2 separate regions of the Homo sapiens genome follow, and region 2 is linked to region 1. The links come from fine-mapping of genetic effects on gene expression. A gene starts in region 1. The other region holds a variant in brackets. All regions are shown on one strand. Distances are from middle to middle. Region 1 holds the start of YIPF5 (Yip1 domain family member 5). Region 2 overlaps KCTD16 (potassium channel tetramerization domain containing 16).

Region 1 (8,585 bases):
TTAATAAAAAGATAATTCTTACTGCTTCCTCAAGAGAATCCTTAAATGAAACTGACTGTCTGCCAACTCTCTAACAAGTATATAGAGTGATGAATAATATGATGACTACTAGAACAACTTGATGCCACTACCTTGATTCATACTCAGGTACCAGCAGTTTTACCAATCAATACTTTTGCAACAGCACTGCAAATGTTAACATACCTAAAAAGGTATATGATATCTTAGTATTGTTATGAAAATAACTTTGACTTTAAAGAATCTCAGAAGAGTCTCAAGGACCCTCTGTAGTCTACAGCCTAAATTTTGAGAGTTGCTGATACAGACCAATAAATTTCATGTAAGGAAGAAAAGTACTGCAAGCAGTTGATTGTTTCAAAGGTGGCACCATCATTCCATCTTCAAGAGGAAAGGTGAGAATGACAATATCATAGAATTTTACTATTTTCCTTTTCTGGCAGGACCTATTCAGGAAAATTTCTGACTTGTTCCTGCTGGTTTTAAACTAAAACATGGTATGGCAGACACGATCTTTACAGGCTAAAACAACATGAAAAGCAGCAGATACTAAATCAATACTCTCATAAGTACTCTGTACCAGTAACAAAGACAAAGCCTCTTAACATATTGGGTTGGTTACCTAAGTTCATGGAAAACCTCAGATATTCCATAAAGATACTACCAGGTAAGTCAAAGAAGAAAAAAAATAACAGCTTTCATAATTTAAAAAATGTGACTTGGTATTATGATATATTTCATAAGCATATCTAGAATACAATGTGGAACCTGTCCAATTTTCCATTTATATAACTCAACAGATTATGATCAAAGGGCCTTTTATACTTTTTTGTTTTTGTTTTTTTGGTGAATGGATCTATGAATGATACTTGTGAAACACCTATAGAGGAAACCAAAAAATGTTAAAGCTGACTTCATTATGGCAAATGCAGAACTGTGTACTAATAACAAGTCAAGTTAAAAACATAAAGACAATGCAAGTAATATGCTATTTGCACCTAGATTTTCACCAATGGAGAGCTAAAAGTTATTAGCGGATCTTTGTTACTAAATTAGCAAATCAAACAAAATATTATTTGGTTAACGGAGATGGACATTTAAAATGTCATTAGATTGCAGATCTACTTGAAGGTACGCACAGAAGAGTCCAGTTTTTACAAAATAAATCTCAGAAACTCAAATTTATTACTGTTAATACATTAGGCTTCTTGTTTTCCCAGGCATCATCTATAAACCCAAGTTTATAGCAATAATGGTTATATAATCACCCAGAATAAAACTTCATCACTAGTACTGAAGCAATGCTTACTGGTACATGATTTGGTTGGAATGAAACTGTGAGAACAGTTGGCAACAGGTGCTAACCAGCAACAAGTTGTTTAGAATATCTAAATTGCTGTGTGGAGAACTGAAATGACTGTTAAAGGGAATGAGACTGTAAGTCACACCTTTTAAGTGATGCAAACGTGGACAGGACAGAAAAGAAAAGAAAAGCAGAGGCAGATAAATCTCGTAGGCTGCAATCTAAATGGAATAGCTCTGTTGAGTTCTAATCATAAAAACCATTCGGATAAAAACAGGCCTGCATAGAGAGACAGGTTCTCCGAAGCTGTGTTGCTGCTTTAGGCAAGGATTTATTAGATGGACTCTGGCTCTCCTATACACAGAGCAATCACCAAAAATACATATTTAGGTAAATAAATGAATGGAAATACCTCAATACAAATTTTCCAACTCTGCCCATTAATTTATCAAAAGAGATAAATCCTCATTGGTATGTAATTAAGTAACAGAAAAGAGAAATGAATCACGGGGTATTTTGACATGCTCACTCCCATTGTTCAAATGTGTTAAGTTTTAGAGGGGAAAACAAAGCCTTAAAATATACCAAATTAAGCAGACTCAAAGAGACTATATGTTTTAGAAAGGATAGCCTAACCAAGACAGACACTATTACAGAGCCACAGTGAATTTGAATTTTGTTTTGTTTTTTAAATTCTTGGGCACTCTAATCCAAACACATTCCTGTATTGCATGTTTCTCACAAACTGACAGATACATAACCTTCCCCTGCCCTCATCGTGGAACAGTCTTTATGAGGTTTCAAATTCGGGATCCATGATGAACATCATTTAACACATGAATTGTCTGAAGTTATATATGCACATTTATTTGGGTGTTTGAGTGAATGCATGTATTTATGGGAAAGAGGCCCAGTTGTAATAGGATTCTCAAAGAGATCCAGAACCATCTAAAAAAGTTTAAGCAATCCTAGTATAGGAAGCTCCTTTATTTGACAGGAAGCTGATAAGATTATCTCTAGGGTCCTAAGAAACTAAGGAGATGATGTTTTAGGTGAGATTGCTAGAAAGCCTTCAGTTCATGTATTTTTGTCACAAACACCAGGTACTATAAAAAGATCATTTAAAAAAAAATGTTCAGAGGCTAACGGCTTTGAGTCAACCTCCTCAGTATGCAACTTATAACACGTGTGGCACTGACCATAAGGGTTTGAGAAGGAGGAGTAATAAAAATGATTATCAACTGCTGTATGAAAATCGCCTGATGATTCGTAATAAGGAGCTTACATCATTAAATAATGTCACTAAGCACTTTCAATTAGCACTGATAAAAGTCTCAGAGTTGGACTGATTTAACTACTAACAAAATACTTTAATTTTTCACTGGTCCTATGAACTAACAGCCTATCTCCTAGGTACCTGAAGCTCCCATCATCTTCTAAATACAGAAATACTGTTACTAGAAAACAGTTCTTCAAACAAGCTACTTTTCCATTCATGGTACACCTGAAGAGTTTGCAGAAGACACTCAACTCTTAAATAGAACAATACCTTCGAAGCCAAGCCAGTGTCACATATCTCTCTAGAGGAAGAAGATTATGCATGAAAGATCATACTCCTGATAAAGGACATGTTCACATATTGTTTTAGGCAGAACCAAATATTCTAAATATGTGTTTTCACTGCAATGTAGACTAAATTAATTGCCAAAGATGAAAAGTTACTTGCTATAGGGTCCTCCACTTCCTCCATAATCATAGGACTGCTGTGACTGATCATCGATGCTGTAACTTGTCTGGTAGAAATCCGTGTTTAAGTTTTCAAAGCCTGACATTGCAAATAATCTGTAATAAAAGAGAAATGGCAAATATTCCTTATGCCCAAGGTTCTACTGAATTCGTTCCTGGCAGTCTGCTTAAGCAAATAGAAACACAACAAATATTTTTTCAGTAATTCGGAGAGGGGATGGGGGCGGAAAGTACGCAGCATTTGAACGACGGTAGCGGAGAGAGAGTAAGAAAATGTATATTCTTTTAAGTTGCGGCCCAGTAAGACAACTCCACCTTAAAGAGCTGATATGCCTTCCATTAGGGGCGAGGTCGTGGGAGTTGTGGTTCCATAAGCGGTCTAAAATATCAATAACAACAAAGATGATTTTTCACCTTAGGACTGGGCTTTACAGCTGACAAGGCGACTGCTTCCTTGCAAAATAAGGCCTGCGGCCTGCCAGGAAAAAGTGCAGAATCTGGAAGGTCGCGCCTGAGGTGCAGGGGACCGCGTCAGGGCAAGGGCTTGAATGAGAGCGAGGGTCTGAGCGAAAGGACCAGGGCGCGGCGCCGAAAGACGGCAACAAGCCCATTTGCACGGGTGTGGAGAGAAGCTGAACACTGTGCCACGGGCCTGGGTCACTCACCAAACTCTGAGGCTGCGCTGGCGGCAAAGGCAGTAGCTTCACTAATCCCAAACAACCCCCAAACTCTGTTTCAGACCCTGAACCAGCCCCGTTGCTACGTGTCACAGGGCCAAAGAACGGCTTCCGGGGCACGCCCGCTCGCGCAGGCGTGTTAGCAGGTTGGGCACCGGTGGGCGGGAGGAGGAGACACGAGTATGGAGCTTGCGCAGTATCTACCCAACCTGCGGCTGGCCCGTGCCAAAGAGGAAAGTGCTTCCGGCAGCCTGGTTAGGGGTGGAACCAGGAAAGCGCAGGCGTAGCAATTGCTGCTTACTCGTAGGTAGGAGGAGGAGTTTCTCAGACCTAGGTGATGGAGGAAGACTGGGAGGCGCTAAAATGAGACAGACGGAGTCCCCTCTCCTGTCCACAAACTACAATGCCTACAATGCCTCGGTGTCAGCATTTACTGTGATTCAAGCACTGTGCTAAAGTGTTTGTATGTATTATTTAATCTTTACAACCTAATGAGATGGTTACCCTATTTCCCTTTTGTAAGTGAAGCTATTAAGTATTCATTCATTCTGTGCTAGCTGCTGGGGATACTGTGGTAAATATAAGCTAGGTGACATCTACCCACCTGGAGTTGGTGGTGGAGAGGGGTAATCGAACACATACAAATGCATGTGAAATTGCTACTAATATTCTTTAGTGTTCCATAATTCTTTGAAAGAGTAACATTCATCTGGGAAGAAGAGTCTGTAAAGCCACTATAAGAGGGTTATCAAAGGGTGAGTGGGAGTTAGAGAAGACCAGAAAAGAGAAGAAAGGGCAACGGGAAAGGAGGATAAGGGAAAATAGCCTGAATATTTTAGGCAAAGAGAACAATGTGTGCAAGATCTGGGAAGCATGGTCTGAGGAAAGATGAAAATCGAGCTCTGAACTTCAGCATTATTAACATTTTGAGTCAGGATGTTTCTTTATTGGGGGCTGCCCTGTGCATGATGCTTAGCAGTAGCATCCCTAATCTCTAGCCATTAGATGCCAGTACTCCCCCCAACCAACCACCACCACCATCACCACCAAGTTGTGACAGCTAAAAATCTCTCCAGACATTGCCAAATCCAAATGTCCTTGGGGGCGGTGGGGGCAACATTAGCTGAATTTGTCAACCACTCTTCTAAGTGGAACCTGAGTGACTGGAACAGCAAGTGAGGGGAGCCACATAGGAGTTGAGGCTGGAATAACAGGAAGGGGCCAGGAAATATCCTGTGGGATTTGTGTGTTGGTTCTAAAAGAAGTGAAGATTGTGAACTGATGAGTGATGTTTAAATTGTTTTCTTTTGAAAATGATTGCTTTGGCTCCTGTGTTAAATCACTTTCCCAAGATGGTGGAATCCCGAATATTGTGACTCGAAATAAGATGCTATTAACTAATGAGCAGAACTTTCTTCAGGGTTTATAGCAATAAAATTTATCATGAGCCACTGCATTATATTCTGGGATCAAAATCCTGAGGCCCTCACAAAAGAAGCCAGACCATTGTTGGGGACTAGTTTCCAAAGGAACAATAAAATTTCACTTAAAACTTTTCTCTCAACACCCCCCACCCCAATAAAACAAACAGAAAACGCACTCCCCTCCAAACAAAAATAGCAACAACAAAAGGATGTAAGACCCAACCAAAAAACCTAGGATTGTACTCTAGAGACCAACAGGCAGCTGCCCTTTGAGGTTTTTACCCATTAGCGAATTTATTTGTTTTATTTTTGTGGATACATCATAGTTGTACATATTTATGAGATAAATGTGACATTTTGATACAAGCATACAATGTGTAATAATGAAATCTGGGTAATTGAGATATATCTGTCGCCTCAGACATTTGTCATTGCTTTGTGTAGAGAAAATTATAAATCTACTCCTAGTTATTTTGAACTATACAATAAATTATTGTTAACTATAGCTACCCTATTTTGCCACTGAACACTAGATTTTTGTGCTTTCTAACTATATTTTTGAATTTCTGAAATTGCTCATTCAAGTGTTCACCACCTTTCATCAATCATTTTAGCATTTATTGGTTTAGGTATCATCTGCACAACTTCAGGTAGAATGACCACATATTATGATTTGCTGGAGACAATTCCATTGTCCCATTTTCTGCCTATTTTTACTTACCCTCAGCATAATTATTAATGTTGCTCCCTTTTACTCTCAAAAATATCCTAATTCAGTTGATAAACTTTGTGATTGTACTTTCTTTAAGCTACATTATCCATGAAGCTGTGTTTCGAGTCATCAATAAGATGCAATAATCCATCATTATCTATTTAATTAATCTTATGGTTAAAAAAATTCTAGTCTCTTTTGTTTTTTTCTGATGTTTCTATTTCTTCTGAATCAAAAAGGATATCCCTTTCAAATTTGAATGAGCTACAAGAATATGAGCATTAAAAATTGCTGATTTAGATGCTGGCGAGGTTTTAGAGAAAAAGGAATGCGTATACACTGTTAGTGAGAGTGTAAATTAGTTCAGCCATTATGGAGGACAGTGTGGCGAATCCTCAAAGACCTAAAGACAGAAATACCATTCGACCCAGCAATCCCATTACTGGGAATACACCCAAAAGGATATAAATCAGTCTATCATAACTACGCATGCATGTGTATGTTCATTGCAGCACTATTCACAGTAGCAAAGACATGGAAGCAACTTAAATGTCCATCCATCATAGACTGGATAAAGAAAATGTGACACATATACACCATGAAATATTATACAGCCATAAAAAGTAGAATGAGGTAATGTCCTTTGCAGGGACATAGATGGAGCTGCAGGACATTATCCTTAGCAAACTAATGCAGGAACAGAAAACCAGATACCACATATTCTCCTTATAAGTATGAGCTAAATAATGAGAACACATGGACACATAGAGGGGAGCAACACACAGTGGGGCATATTGGAGGGAGGAGGGAGAGAATCAGGAAAAATAACTAATAGATACTAGGCTTAATACCTGGGTGATGAAATAATCTGTACAACAAACCCCCATGATACAAGTTTATCTATGTAACAAACCTGCACCTGTACCCCTGAACTTAAAATTTAAAAAATTTGCCTGTTTAGGAATGAATTATTAGATATAGATATTATTCAAATTCTACTTCTGTCTCTGAAAGCAATTAACGTATTTATTTAAATTTTCCCCTTTGAATTTCTGCTCCAATTGAGAAGCCAAGCAAGAACATTGAGTTACCTGATTAAGTTTTGCATATTGTTTATTTGACTTTGAAATGTAAGCCAAGGTATCCTGCTGATGCCCCTTAGAAATTTTGAGAACATCCACTAATTTCATGGCTAGTCACGTAGGAATTTCTTTTTGGATTTTTTTTTTTTTTTTGGCATTGCTCCCTCACTCTGGGATAGGCTCCAGAAAGTTATATTAAAGGAGACTGGAGTACTTGGTAAATGTGCCGTCCTCTGTTAAAGTCACCCAGCTGGCTTTATTAGGAGTAGAAAGCCTCACCCTAGGTCAAGAGATGAGGCAACATGAGCTAGACTTGTAATAGCTGCGCAGTCCTTCCCTGGGACCTAATGTATCCATCACCAAAACAAAAAGGGAAAGGACATCCTAATAATGAGTAATATCATTTAGTTAGACAGTCATGTTAGTATACACACTAACACTTTTACATGCTTCACAAACACACGCAAAACAACTCCATTTTCTTAGTATGGCTCTGAAACTAAGATATTTTAGAGTTACTTTCTTTCCCTTCTGTTTTTCAGTTCATATGTCATGAAAAGTTGTGCCAGAAAATTATGGTTTGAACATGGGCAGTTTTCTCCTACCGTCAGCTATATCCACAAGCATCACATGAAGTGGAGATCTGGCAGCTCTGTGTATTTCAGTCAAGTTCCACAATGAAACCTGACAATAATGGTAAAAACCAATGTAAGTGCCAGTGTTTGTTTTTACTCTCCCTATATATTAACTATGTAACCTCTTTTCCCAAATATGACAATTATATTTCCTCCAAATTATCTTTTTTCCCCTACCAAAGAGTTTCCTCATCAAGTCTCCTGTACTAGGTTATTCAAATTCTGCTTCTTTTGTTTCAATTATTTTACTTTGAACGATGAATAGTTTTGGGAAGACAGGTTTGCCCGTAATGGCATTGGATGCTTTTGTACAGAACTGGTTTTTAAAAGGCAAAGAAATTTAACCCCAATTTTATAACTATTCCTGGAAGCTTGACTTCAGTATTGCAAGTGCTGCATGTTGTTAAAAATAAGTCTTTTAAAGATAACATATAAGCAATATTGTAAATACTGTAAATATTTTCATTGTAGAGATCAAAAATACCCTCTTCAGTAACAAACCTTTCTAATGTCAGGTGAATGGCTATTGTGGCTTGGAATATGAATTTCAGTGAAAGCACTGAAGCACTGAAGTCTGTATTTCAAATAATTTGGGTAGTAGGGGAGATAATATGAAAAACAGCACGGGAGAACTCAAAGTGGGCTCTAATGATGGCAAAGCCACTCATGCCAAAGGTAAAAATGAAGCATTTGAAAAATATGACAGCTAACACCTATTTATACTTCAAGAATTTGTGTGCCAAGCATTTCTTTAAGCACTTTGCACTTTTTAACTCAATTACTCCTCCTCCTGACAACCCAATGAGGTAGGTGCCATGTAATGCCCATTTGACACATGAGGAAATTGAAACAGAGTAAGTAATTTGTTAAACATTATTATGGTAGAAAATAGTAGACTAGACATTTTGAACTTGTTCCTGAGTCCTTATGCTAAAGCAGTAGGCTGTATTGTTATTGTGTTATGAAATGTGAATGAAGAAAAGTCAAT
Region 2 (8,585 bases), 210 kb after region 1:
CTGGTGAATGCTCTGGCATGACTGCAGTGCCACACCCCTTGTGCCATTCATAATTGAGCAGTCTTTCTGTTGGCCATTCAAGATTACAGAAGAAACCCAGCGGACTATTCCTTATTGCAGGCTTGGGTGTACATATCTACGCATTCAGACTTGGGATAACACTGGATGAGGAGGTGGTGTTTTAGGGATTGTTTCTCTATTTTATCAAACTCATTTCCTACCCCATTTCCTCCAACAGGTCTGCAATTATAGCTCTCCAATGCTGGCCATCCTTCATGGAGCCCTTCTCTGTTCAAGGAGAAACATCCCCTATTGGACTGTCTCTCTTTTTACTTTCTCTTGGGGTTCCTTGATCATCTTAACTATAACATTTTCAAATACATATTAATAGAGGTCCTGGATACAGCATACATGAGTCAAGTGGCTGGATATCAGGCTATAAGGAATGGAGTGGACAGTGGCAAACTGGTAAATTTATATCCTGGCTCAAGGGCAGCTGAGACTCAGCTCTAGCTAATTGCTGCCAGACATGAAAGTTGGCTAGAGTAGCCAGATCTGATATTCAACAGAACACACAAATTAGGAACTGCATGTGACACTTATTAATTTTATTACATTATACAATTAAAGAAAATGCCTCTCTGGGGCCAGAGTCAGTCCACAGACCAGCAGTTTATGACCCTTTGTTTAACCCTCTCTTCTCCAAACTTACCCAATCTGCTACATACATTTAAAACTCTGGGTTGAAGAGGGGAGAAGAGAAGCCCTCCCTAAATTTAAGCTTCTGAGAAGATTATTTAAAAATCCATCAGCCAAGAATGACATCCTGCTGACAAGTCTTCTGCAGGCTGTTGTGCTAAATGTGTCATTTCAGGTTCACTAAGTTCTCAGACCCAGGAGTGACTAGGGACATGGAAAAGAGAGCAGTGATAATCAAACTCTCCATCCCTCCACATCTGGTAAACCTCCCTTTCCACAATGCCATGATTTTGTGCAATTAGGTAGGTAATTATCTGTTGCATCTCTTTTTCAATCTTATATACTTTGTTTTCCTGTAACTTCCTTCCATTCCAAGTAAGGGAAAGCATGAATGTATGTGTTGTGTGTGTCCTTGTCCTTTCATATACATAGATATCATAACTTGAAATTGGTCAGAAGGGGACGTTAATTATAAGAAAACAAAGGAACTTAAACACTTAGCAGATATTCAGATTTCCATGCATGGTTTGGGATTTTAAGGAGGTTTTCCTGAATTTCAAAGAACACAGCCTTCCCTCCTTCTGTGCTCTCCCTCTTTTTCCCCAGGGAAAGGAAGACTACTAGCCTGGAGGTTGGGGTAGGAAGGTATATTTAGAATTGCAGGAAAAATCTGTAGTGAAAAGTAATAGAAGAACTTACAGCTATGAAATTCCAGACACAGAGATGAAATTAGACTAATATGTATATGAATAAGGTGGTGTATATTGCCAGATAATATACCAAATGTAGTTTCTTGCTTTGTCAGGTCATTGATAAGTAGTTTACAGGATTTGAATCAATACTATTTTTTATTTCTTCTAAAGATGCTAGATCATATTCTCTTACTCTACTGAAATGTCGTATCTAGCTAGTTGAAGAGTGGTTTTCATTTCTATAATAAAATTCTGGAAATAATTACTTAGTTTCAGATGTGTGCAATATGTTAAGGCCAATATGCAGGGCTACTTCTTTTTTGAACAGTTTTGGAATCCAACTTTATTAAGTATGTCATTTCTATGCCTTTGTTATATTCTTGTGTAATTTAAATAAGATGTTTAAAGTGCATTAAAATCATCTCACATGTGTCATCAATGGCAGGTTAACTTCATTAGATTAGCCCTAGTCAAGGCAACAGAATAGACTTGTGTTTTTCAATTATTCAAGTAAACAGCTAATGTACCAGGCATGGATTGAGCTGAACCAACGTGTTATTTGGCCTCTTCTCTCTGCTTCACTGCATATAGACAGATGGTTGTTTTGTATTAAATGACTTTTTACAATGCATTAATCTTATGCTAACATTCGTCATAGGAGAAAATGCAAGCATCCGTGAAATGGGATTTGGCGATATTAATTGTGGCCTTTCTCTTAGATGCCTTGGCTTCAGAGTGAATATTCATTTACAACTCATGGAGAAAGGGATGCATCCTGGAATACTGACGTTTGGCAATTGTCAGATGAACTTTCTGCTTTCAGCATATTTTGTGCTCAAAAGTAGATTCTTTTTATTATGAAATGTTTGAGGCAGGTATATGCCTTTTACGACTACCCATGTCTTCCTTCTCTCCTGCCCATAAGGTTTTCCCATTTTTATGCCTGCTCTTTGGCCTAACTCCCCACATGTTCCCATGGATGACAAGAAAGATATGAGAGGGAGTCTCTTTTCATATTTAGGCTGTGTTTACACATTGGGTTAGACTTTGGATAAAGATTGGAGGATTAGTAAATAGATATTTCACGTACTAGAAGAAGAGGGGCTTACTTGAAATGGGTTTAGAATTGTAATAAGATGAATTTAGGTGTCCTATAAATAAGCTTTGTGACTATAGGGACTGTGAGAGAACAGAGTGCATTACTGATGGAGGGTTTGGGAGTTACTTTTGGAGGATATCTTTAAGAATATCATTATAATAGATTAAAGACAAGGAGTTCATTTGGGAGCTTGGGGGCATGTTCCAGTCCTAAATATGGTTGTTATTTTATTTTCAAAGGTAACATCTTCAACAAGTTTTCAGACAGGTTTCTTTGTATGGGTATGACAGAAAATATATAATTATTCACTCTTTCTTTTAAATTAAAGTTTCACAAAGATGGCCTTTGCAAACACACCAAATAAGATCATCCATGCCTTTTTCTTTTTAGTTGGCATTTGATGTTGAGAATTTTAGCTAGGCTGAGTCAGTAGTTATTGTTTCAAATATTTATCACTGACTTGAGAAACATATTTATAAAAGTTATATTCAAATAAAGCAAAATGTAAATAAAAGAATAAACCAAACATCCATGTATTTCCAACACTTACATGTATTGTATTGTAAATGTAGTCTATATTTTTAATTTTTTTCATTTTCCTTACATACATACTCTGGTATAGACGGCAGTATGCTGGTTTTATACATATATGCAGTTGCAAGTGTGGTTTCCTCTGCCGAGATTCTATACCTAAAAAATATTCTACACTTATGGTTCTATACCTAGAAAACCCCATAGTCTCTGACCAAAGGGTCCTATAAATGATAAATAACTTTGGTAAAGTTTCAGGCTACAAAATAAATATACAAAAATCAGTTACATTTCTTTACACCAATAATGTCCAAGCTGAGAGTAAAATCAAGAGTACAATCCCATTCACAACAGCCACAAAAAGAATAAAATACCTAGGAATACAGCTTACCAAGGAGGTAAATGATATTTACAATGAGAGTTACAAAACACCACTGAAAAAAACCAGAGACAGCACAAACAAATGGAAAAACATTCCATGCTCATGGATAAGAAGAATCAATATTTTTAAAATGGCTACACTGCTCAAAGTAATTTACAGATTCAATGCTATTTATATCAAACTATGAATGCCATTTTTTACAGAATTAGAGAAGACTATTTTGAAATTCACTTGGAACTGAAAAGGAGCCTAACTAGCCATAGCAATTCTAAGTAAAAAGAACAAAGCCAGATGCATCACACTACTCAACTTCAAACTACATTATGAGGCTCCAGTTACCAAAACAGCATGGTACTGGTACAAAACCAGACACATAGATCAATGGAACAGGTTACAGAACAACTATATGATCTTCAACAAAGTCAACAACAACAAGCAATGGGGGAAAGACTCCCTATTCAATAAATGATGCTGGGATAACTGACTAGCCATATGCAGAAGATCGAAACTGGACTACTTCCTTGCACCATATAAAAATCAACTCAAAATGGATTAAAGACTTAAATGAAAACCTAAAACTACAAAAACCCCAGAAGAAAACTTAGGAAATACCATTCTAGACATAGGCCTTGGCAAAGATTTCATGACAAAGTCTCCACAAACAATTGTAACAGAAACAAAAATAGACAAGTGAGACCCCAGAGTTTCTGCACAGCAAAAGAAACTATCAACAGAGTAAACAGACAACCTATAGAATGGGATAAGACATTTGCAAACTATGCATCTGATAAAGGTCTAATATCCTGAATCTATAAGAAACTTAAACAAATTAACAAGGAAAAAACAAGCAACCCCATTAAAAAATGAGCAAAGGACACGAACAGACACTTTTCAAAAGAAGACATACAAGCATATGAAAAAAAAGTTCAACATCAGTAACCATCAGAGAAATGCAAATCAAAACCACAATGAGATACCGTCTCACACCACTCAGAATGACTATTATTAAAAAGTCAAAAAATAACAGATATTGGCAAGGTTGTGGAGAAAAGAGAACATTTATACACTGCTGGTGGGAATGTAAATTAGTTCAGCCACTGCAGAAAGCAGTGTATTAGGCTGTTCTTGCATTGCTATAAGGAAATACCTGAGACTGGGCAATATTTAAAGAAAAGAGGTTTTTGGCTCAAGGCTCTGCAGGCTTGGAAGCATAGGGCTGGCATCTGCTTGGCTTCTAGGGAGGCCTCAGGAAGTTTACAATCATGATGGAAGGCAAAGGGGGAGTAGGCATGTCACATGGCAAAAGCAGAAGCAAGTGAGAAAGAGTGGAGGGGGGAGGTGCCACACACTTTTGAACCACCAGATCTCGTGTGAACTCAGAGCAGGAGCTCACTTATCACCAATGGGATGGCCCAAGCCATTCATAAGAGATCCATCCCCATGATTCAAACACCTCTCACCAGTCCCCACCTCCAGCATTGGAAATGACAATTCAACATGAGATTTGGGTAAGGACATATGTTCAAACCATCTCAAGAAGTTTGGAGATTTATCAAAGAATCTAAAAGATAACTACCATTTGACCCAGCAATTCCATTATTGGGTACATACCTAAAGGAATATAAATAATTCTTCTAAGAAGCCACATGCACCCATATGTTCATTGCAGCACTATTTACAATAGCAAAGATATGGAATCAACCTAGGTTCCCATCAACAGTGGACTGGATGAAAGAAGATGTTTA[T/TATACATAC]ATACATACATACATACATACATACATACATATGATGGAATACTATGCAGCCCTAAAAATTGAAATCATGCCTTTTGCAGCAACATGGATGTAGCTGAGGCCATTATGCTAAGTAAATTAATACAGGAACAGAAAATCAAATACTACATATTCTCACTTATACGTGGGAGTTAAACACTGAGTACACATGGAACCAAAGATCGGAATAATAGACATAGGTTCTTACTTGAAGGATGAGCATGTGGGAAGAGGGTGAAGGTACTCTTTAGTCACTTCCTGGGTGACTAAATCATTTGTACACAAAACCCCAGCAATACGCAATTTACTCAGGTAATAAACCTGCACATGCACCCCTGAACCTAAAATAAAACTTGAAAAAAGATTTTAAAATATAAGAATAAAAAGAAATAAGCTCAGACATCAGCACCTCCAGGAAGGCTCCCTGGATTCTATGCCCCTCGCCTCTGACACCATACTTAGGATCCTCTTATTGAGCTCACTATAGTTAGTTGTTCCATACTCAGTATTGAATGAATGAATATGGAATAGAAACATCACCTTTCTCCCATATTATATGATAAACTACAAGAAAACTGGAAATTTGTTTTATTCATATCCACATACCTAGCCACCAGCACCATGCCTGACATGTAGTAGATGCTCAATAGCCAAGTAGTGAATGAATGACCATTTGTCCTTGAGGAGGTGAAGTTTTTATTTAAAGCATCTCTGGATCCACTGCGAGGTTCTGGATGTTCATCTCTTTTACTTCAGCATTTACTTAAGCTCTTATTTGGAGGTGCATTGAGTTATTCATTCTTCCTGGATCAAGAAAACAAGACCATGGCAGTAATGTCACCACTAAATTCTCATATTGCTTTGCCCAACTTGTGCATTTTTCACATGCTATTCCAAATATTGTTTCCTTTCTATTCAAAGCACCCACAATCCTCTGGTAGGGAGCTTCACGTTGGTTTTCCTAATCTGCTCTGGCAAAATAGTTTTGGCACTTAACTTCTACTCATTTCTTTCCTTACTGTTACCTCTGCAGAGAAGCAGAAACCTGCAAATTCACTGTCTGCAGATAAATGGGGCCATTTCACCTTCCCTGGTACCTCACAGGTAAGTTTGAAAAGAGCAGAAGACGCATAGTTGAAGGGGACCTAGGGACTCTCTTAAATGATAAATGACGATTTAGAAAATTGCCCACCTTAGCTGTAAACTGTACTTACTGGGCAAGTTGAGGAATTAAACTGTCATCTTTCATCCTGTAGAGCTGACATTTCTCTGCGTCAGAGCTGCCATTTTGACCTTTCTTTTCACATTTTGTTGAGTTATTCACTCCCTGGCTCAGCTTTTTTGATTTGAAATATTCAGATCTACCTTTTTCACGGGATGGATCTCTTGTTTTCTCCCTAGTCTTTTCTCATGCCACTGAACTGCATCATATGTTAATAAGCTTTTTACTGTGCTAAATTGCTTTGTTTCTGTAGCTGATTTGAAGGCAAAAAGGCCCTAGAGGGTGAAGGAAAAAAAAAAAAAGAAACATTCTAAAGTAATTAGAATGATTACAGCAGCTGAAAACATTGCTTTCCTAAAACTGCAATATTTTTTCAGGAGATTTTTTTTTTTCTTTTACAAAAGCCCATGAGGTACTAGGATTAGTGTTTGCAAAGCAAATGGTGGCTGGTAGTTTTTCATTATAGAGACGAATGAGAGTCATACATTGGAAATTTTAAAATGCATTATCATGACCAGCCATAGGCTTATCTTGCTCATCCTTTATTTGGTTTCAGTTATGTCCTTTGCCTTCATGACCATCTGAGCCGAGGCTTAGCAGGCATTTCTGATGGGTTTGAAACACTTCGTTAAAAACCAATATTATAAAAAATACGTAAGAATCTATTCATTAAAAATGGTGAGTTGTAGACATCTTTTTGATCAGAAAAACCACAACAGTAAATGTGGCAGCTATGAATTAACACTTACAAATAGATGATTTCCCCCAGTGAAATATTAGTCTTTGTGCAATGGAATAAATAGCAGTTTTTTTCCTGAGGAAAAGCTGAACTTAATTTTCAAGATGAGTGGGAGTCATTGAAATGGGAGAGGATTTAAGATGGTGAGTTAATATATTTTATGCTCTTCTCTCATGCAGATCAGGTAGCAAGTGATGGAGCATTTCTACGTGTATCCAAACCTTTGCAAAATGGGTTGCCATCATTTCCTTGTAATGGATAGACAAAGTCCAGGCACTTCTTTGGCACCCTTATAGCTTTGAAAAGCTGGTAAGGGGATAGAACTGGAGGCTAAGGAAGAAGTGGGAAAGGAGCTTCGTCATTCTGTGTTTTAAATCCTTTCTCTGTTGTCTTCATCAGACATCTGACCAAAACGACAGCACTGTTGGCATTGCTGCTGAAATATACTAATACCTTACAATGAAGTTTTCAAAATAAATACATTTTTTCTAAGTAACTTTAACATAAAATTTTATTTATTTTTTCATTATAGCGAAATAAAATTTTATTTATTATAACATTGTTTTATTACATCTTCCAAAGTACATTACCTATTTTGCTACCATTTTAAAACAAAATATAGTAAACATAATTTAACCTCTTTCTGATGACTCAAGATAAATTTTACAAATATTCTATTGTTCCGTATTCATCATTAATGTTTGCACTATTATTTCTTTAATGTAGAGACCAAATGCTACAAAACAAATGAACTGTTGTGGTAATATTGGACAATTTTTAGGGTCTTATTTCTGGCTTCTAGCTTTTGTTTCCTAATGATGGTCACTTGGCTATTCTTTAAAGTTTTAGGATGGATAAGTAGGTAATTAAGAGTATAAAATAGCATGTAAGGAAGAGTCAATATAATCTGTAGGATGACCCCTTTCATGTAATGAAGTGCATACATTTTGTGATATTTATTTTGGATGTTTAGAAGCTCGTTCCCTTTTGGACTCACTGTTGGAAGTCTGACATTCAAATAAGTGGGACATTATGGCCTGTATTTTGGCTAAAGGGGATAATGTCTGCAGCTGGAATAAACAATCAGCAAAGTCATAAATCATAATTTCCTTCACACTTCATTGTAAGATAATAATATATGAGCGAAAACTATTTTCCTCTATTATAGCTGTCACTAAAGGAAAATTTCCATTCAGGCTATAACCTCTCAATAAAATATAAGGCACAAAAATTCAGAAAAATATATTTTTGTTTACTCGTAGATGCTGATGACTTCAGTGAAGATAGCATTGTTGCATAATGTCCACAAATCATTGATAATAAAAATATAACCAAGAACATGACATATGCATTTGTTACTTGTATTTTTATATTTAATTTTAAATAGTCTTCAGTAACATGCTTGGGGCCAAGCCATGGGGATTTATTTTTCATGTCCTTCACATCCACTTCTACTTC

What was found. PIP is the estimated chance that this variant, and not a neighbour inherited with it, causes the effect.
Region 2: its variant is the best candidate, but not a certain one, in a credible set for the expression of YIPF5 in monocytes after LPS (Fairfax 2014, PIP 0.55).

The regions. Positions count from the first base shown.
Region 1 is chr5:144,166,803-144,175,387 of GRCh38, forward strand. It overlaps YIPF5 (Yip1 domain family member 5), which reads right to left and starts at 3,857. Exons shown (of 6, transcript NM_030799.9): 1 at 3,733-3,857; 2 at 3,044-3,163. The coding sequence starts at 3,153. It overlaps KCTD16 (potassium channel tetramerization domain containing 16), which reads left to right and starts at 4,071. Exons shown (of 4, transcript NM_020768.4): 1 at 4,071-4,207; 2 at 7,505-7,670. RefSeq lists an enhancer at 3,719-3,998.
Region 2 is chr5:144,376,869-144,385,453 of GRCh38, forward strand. The region is part of intron 3 of KCTD16 (potassium channel tetramerization domain containing 16); the gene reads left to right. Among named protein-coding and RNA genes, the nearest start is that of KCTD16, 210 kb to the left of the region's middle. RefSeq lists an enhancer at 5,774-6,973. The variant T/TATACATAC (reference allele first, on the strand shown) is at 5,149.